Regions from separate parts of the Homo sapiens genome. Here region 2 is linked to region 1. The links come from fine-mapping of genetic effects on gene expression. A gene starts in region 1. The other region holds a variant in brackets. All regions are shown on one strand. Distances are from middle to middle.

The links. PIP is the estimated chance that this variant, and not a neighbour inherited with it, causes the effect.
Region 2: its variant is fine-mapped to the expression of TM4SF19 in monocytes after LPS (Fairfax 2014, PIP 0.95).

Annotation. Positions count from the first base shown.
Region 1 is chr3:196,336,631-196,339,542 of GRCh38, forward strand. It overlaps TM4SF19 (transmembrane 4 L six family member 19), which reads right to left and starts at 1,758. Exons shown (of 5, transcript NM_138461.4): 1 at 1,634-1,758. It overlaps TM4SF19-DYNLT2B (TM4SF19-DYNLT2B readthrough (NMD candidate)), which reads right to left and starts at 1,790. Exons shown (of 6, transcript NR_037950.1): 1 at 1,634-1,790. RefSeq lists enhancers at 1,282-2,481, 1,848-2,142 and a silencer at 1,891-2,062.
Region 2 is chr3:196,424,891-196,427,802 of GRCh38, forward strand. The region is part of intron 1 of UBXN7 (UBX domain protein 7); the gene reads right to left. Among named protein-coding and RNA genes, the nearest start is that of UBXN7-AS1, 5.0 kb to the right of the region's middle. The variant C/CA (reference allele first, on the strand shown) is at 1,495.

The DNA.
Region 1 (2,912 bases):
TTTGGAGAAACCCTTCCAAAAATGTGAACCAGGAGGTTAGCAAAGAGGTGGCCTAATTTGATATCTGAAGAGACAAGCAAGATCAGAAGGTAAAACCTTAAAACCAGGCTGCTGGGGAGTTCCTTGTTCTGTCCTGAGGTCCTAGCTAGGTGAGCACGTCATCGGCTAGATGTCCAGGCAACAACAGAAGTGATCGGCTCAATTCCATGGAGGAAGAGACCGCACATTCTCTACATCTGTGTCTCTCCCTCGCCACCCAGCAAGGCTTTTCTTTCATTCTTCCTTCAGTCGGATATTTATTAAGTGATCACTACCTGACAGACACTTGGGGGGCTAGGGATATAACGATGAAAAAGATGTAATCCCTTTCCTTGAGGAGCTTAAAGTCTAGTGGGGACACTGCTGACGCAAAAAGCAATTCTTTTTTTTTTTTTTTTTTTTTTTTTTTGAGACACAGTCTCGCTCTTGTTGCCCAGGCTGGAGTGCAGCGGCATGCTCTTGGCTCACTGCAACCTCCGCCTCTCGGGTTCAAGTTATTCTCCTGCCTCAGCCTCCCAAGTAGCTGGAATTACAGGCATGCACCACGCCCGGCTAATTTTGTATTTTTAGTAGTGATGGGTTTTCGCCATGTGGGTCAGGCTGGCCAAAAAGTAATTCTAATCAAGTGTGGTAAGAAATAGAGCAGACATGAGCAGGGCGGGAGAGGGCCTCTACCCCAGTAATGTCAGGTGACTATCAGGTGATGGCCAGGCGGTTGTTACACTGTCTTTCTAAAATAATATTGGTCACAGCCAGCGTTGGGAAAGACAGTCTCCCAATAGATAGAAAATACCTGAACTTGGTGATCAGCAGCTTCCTGGTAAGAGCTCAGGAATTGGGCGAGTGGGCTCAAGCATCTACACTAAGAAGCAAAATGGTGGAGTTTAGCTGGTGTGTGTGACCTTCCTCTAGTGCTGCTCCGCGGGTAAGGGAAAAACGCCTCAAGTGAGCATGCGCACGACTTCAGTAAACACACTGCGCATGCGGCCCCTCCCAAGTGCCTGTGCGGCAGGCAGGCGCCAAGTCAAGGGTCTAACAGCACATTTGGGTGTCTCAAGTCACGCACTTGGCCCTTTTCCAAGTGTACTTTACTTCCTTTCATTGCTGCTCAAAAACTTTTTAATAAACCTTCACTCCTGCTCTCAAACTTGCTTCAGCCTCTCCCTCTGCCTTAAACCCACTTCTGCCCCTCAGCCGAATCTCTCCCCCGAGAAGGCAAGGATTGAGTTTGCTGCAGACTCGCTGGATTCACAGCTGGTAACAGTAAGTACCAGGCAGGGGCATCCAACTTAAGGTGTCATGGAAGCACATGGAGGAACCTAATCCTATCTGGCAGAAGCAAAACGAAGCTTCCCGGAGGAAGGGCTGCCCATGCCCAAACTTGATGGACGATGAGATACTAGGCAGGAAGAGTATTCTAGGTGCAAAGGCCAGAAGTTGACAGACTGAGGCAACAGGAGAAGGTAAGTGAATGGCGCAAAGTCACACAGACGCCAAGCTGCAGAGCCAGGCTCACTGGAGTGGAAGCGTGCACTCTCATCTGTGAGGCTAGGCTGTTCCCTGGCCGTCACCTCACCCTTTCATCTCTGCTTACCTGCATCTGGTGTCAAGAATCAGAATGGGAGAGACAGAACCTGGAGAAAGGCTGCGTCTTCAGAGTGGGGCTCCACTCCTCCAGCTCCAGGGCTGGACCTGAAGGTTGTCTTTCCAGGACTCTTTCCAGGAGGGCCAGGGAGGCTCTGTATATACGTAGAGGTCACCCAGGCGTGTGTGTGTGCGCGCCCCCACGCCCCTGCCCACAGGCCTGCATTGAAGGCGCTTCCGCTCCCCGGAGAGCCCTGTCCTGATGACCCACCCTCTGCTCATTTTCATGTGATTCTAAGGCAGGAAACGGGAGACATGGCCTCATGAGCTCCGCTGTCCTGATGAGTCACTGGATGCACCCGTGAGAAACACCTCACCCTCCGCTCTCCCCAGGCAGCAACACTTGCCACACCCCAGCTGTTCCTGTCCTCATCTGCCACCCCGCGAAGAATTTCGGCTCTTTGACAGAACAGCACCGAGCAGGGCAGCCACCCCTTTTTCCTCATCACTCTCCTTACCTTGCCCTTGGCTGACTCGATGTGTTGCATGGTTCCTGTACTAGACGTCTAACTTTTTTTTTTTTTTTTTTTTGAGACAGGGTCTCACTCTGTCACCCAGGCTGGAGTGCAGTGGCATGATCTCGGCTCACTGCAACCTCCGCCTCCCACACTCAAGCAATCCTCCCACCTCAGCCTCCTGAGTAGCTGGGATTACAGGCACCTGCCACCATGCCCGGCTAATGTTTGTATTTTTAATAGAGACGGGGTTTTGCCATTTTGGCCAGGCTGGTCTCGAACTGCTGACCTCAGGTGTTCGCCTCAGCCTCCCAAAGTGCTGAGATTACAGGTGTGAGCCACCGCACTCAGCCTCTTGTTCAAGCCCCAGGCCACTATCATCTTGTACCATACTCTCACCAAATTGCTGAGGATTTTGTGGTGCTCTCTGTGTGGGAGATCCGTGACCCTCTATGGACAAGCTCCTATTCAAGATTCAGTTCAAACATTCCCAGTGAAGTCTGCCAGGATTTCTTTACTCCGAGTTAGGTACTTCTTTCTCTATGCTCCCATTGCATTTTAAACATCTAGATATTATATACAGTAAAGTGCACAAATCTTTTCTTTTCTTTTTTTTTTTTTTGAGACGGAGTTTCACTCTTGTTCCCAGGCTGGAGTGCAGTGGCACAATCTCAGCTCACTGCAACCTCTGCCTCCTGGCTTCAAGCAATTCTCCTGCCTCAGCCTCCCAAGTAGCTGGGATTACAGGCACGTGCCACCACGCCTGGCTAATTT
Region 2 (2,912 bases), 88 kb after region 1:
GGGGTTTCACCATGTTGGTCAGGCTGGTCTCAAACTCCTGACCTCAGGTGATCCACTCGCCTCGGCCTCCCAAAGTGCTGGGATTCCAGGTGTGAACCACCGCACCTAGCCCCATTTTTATAACTTTAACTGCCATGAATATGACAGATTTCTCACTCTTCTTTCTAGACCCAAATATTCATCTGCTTCAACAGCTCCATCTGGAAGTCCTATTAGCAGCACCTTAACTTATCCAAAACTGAGCTAACCATCTTCTCCCCACACCTTTCTGCTATTCCATACCTTCATAAATAGCACTGTTACATACCTAGGTGTCCAAAACAGAATCCTAAACTTCATTTTGACTCTGATTTCTTCCCATACCTTTTGGAGTCCACTTCTCCGCCACTAACTTTTTTCAGGACACCACTATCTTTCTTGGGTTAATATAACAGCCTTCTACTGATCTCTGTGCCTATCTCTTCTCCATTATAGCCAAGTAACTCTTTCTTTAAAAAAAAAAAAAAGGTCAAATCAGATGTAACTCCTTTTTTAATAAATAAAATTTTAATACATTTTGTAGAGATGGGGTCTCACTATGTTGCCTAGGCTGATCTCAAGCTCCAGGCCTCCCACCTCAGCCTCCCAAAGTGCGGGAATTATAGGTGTGAGCCACAGTGCCCAGTCTCACTCCTCTAATTAAAACCCTTGACTCCCCACTATTCTCAGAATAAAGACAAGATTTTTTTTAACATGGCTTATAAGGCCCAACCCAATCTCCCATTTATCTCTTGAGGTCCATTTATTGCACTAGCTGTGCTTTACTCATTTGGAATTATCAATTCCCTAAACCGATTGTCTCCCCTCTCTCATCTCTGTCTGTATACATGTCTGCCCAATTCCCCTCCAAGTCTCTGCATGTTTCTCCTGCAAGAAACATCTTCCAGATTTTAGATAAAAAAGTATTTATTCTGGGAAGGTTTTCTTGACCTCCCTCTTTTGTGCTCCAGTATTAGCTCCTTACCATTCTCTCACTGTATTCTAATACCTATTCGTGTGTCTCTATTCCTGTTAACCTTTAAGCTTTCTGAGGACAGACACCACGCCTTGCTCACAGTTGTATCCTTAAGATGTGAACCATGCCTGGCACGTAGCAGTCTACCAATAAATGAATCTACTAGTAAGATTCCATTCGCAACTCAAAATTACCTCCCTTAAATTTCTGAAACTTCAGCCAGGCATGGTGGCTCAAGCCTGTAATCCCAGCGCTTTGGGAGGCTGAGGTGGGTGGATCACCTGAGGTCAAGAGTTTGAGACCAGCCTCGCCAACAAGATGAAACCCCATCTCCATTAAAAATACAAAAAATTTAGCTGGGTGTCGTGACGCGCATCTGTGGTCCCAGCTGCTCAGGAGGCTGAGGCAGGAGAATCACTTGAACCGGGGAGGCGGAGGTTGCAATGAGCCAAGATCACAGCACTGCACTCCAGCCTGGGTGACAGGATAAGACTTCGTCT[C/CA]AAAAAAAAAAAAAAAAAGAAATTCTGAAATGTATTCCCTATTGAAACTATTCTTAAAATTCCTGAAGTTTTCTCTTAACATCTATAATACTGTGACCACCTTTCCAGACACAGAGAACTTAATCATAGTTTAATATTAACCCAAGAGAAAGGAAATGTTCTGTACAAAAGCATATGAATGAGGCCAGGCGCGGTGGTTCACACCGGTAATCCCAGCACTTTGGGAGGTCGAAGCAGGAGGATCACCTGAGGTCGGGAGTTCGAGACCAGCCTGACCAAAATGGAGAAACCCCGTCTCTACTAAAAATACAAAATGAGCCGGGCGTGGTGGCGCATGCCTGTAATCCCAGCTACTCAGGAGGCTGAGACAGGAGAATCGCTTGAACCCGGGAGGTGGAGGCTGCAGTGAGCCAAGATCGTACCTTTGCACTCCAGCCTGGGCCACAGAGTGAGACTCTGTCTCAAAAAAAAAAAAAAGAACATGAATGGAAATTGGCCATAAAGTTAAATACCACAAACATGACAGCCCCTAATTTTTATAATAAATATGCACTCATCAACCATCTGAAAGATTAAGGTCTCTTCTACAACTGAGGTTCTATAATTTTCTCAAGTATGTTATTGCCGCTATGCACAAAGCTCTATGAATTTCCGTACCAGTAACCTCTTGTACTCTTCTTAGCCTCCACTTTCTATGCCCTCACATTTGTCCTTAGACTGCTAGCTTATTTTTCACCTGTTCTATAGTGTCTATGTATCCCTCACCTTCACTCCATGAATTATTCTGATTACACATGTGCACCAGTGTATATGTGTAGTGGATGTCAGCCCAAAGTTGGTGCTAATGGAATACTGCCATGGCTCAAAACATTTTTACTTTTATTTACTTTTTCTTTTTTTGAGACAGGGTCTCGCTCTGTGCTCGCTTCAGCAGCACATATACTAAAATTGGAGACAGAGTCTCGCTCTGTCGCCCAGGCTGGAGTGCAGTGGCTGGATCTCGGCTCACTGCAACCTCCGTCTCCTGGGTTCACGAGATTCTCCTGCCTCAGCCTCCTGGGTAGCTGGGACTACAGGCGTGCACCACCATGCTCAGCTAATTTTTGTATTTTTCGGAGAGACAGGGTTTCACCAGGTTGGCCAGACTGGTCTGAAGCTCCTGACCTCCGGTGATCCACCCGCCTTGGCCTCCCAAAGTGCCTGGGATTACAGGCGTGAGCCACCGCACCTGGCTTCAAAACATTTTTAAAAATTGCTCTTTCAGAATAGATCCAGCTGCATATTTTTCCTTCATGTTTTGAGAATTGATATGACTTCTGAGTTTTCAACAGTAATTCAAAGCCATGTATGATAAATATCAGAGGAGATCAAACAGTAGTATTGTAAAATGTGGAATGACTATAAAAGTAACAAGACTG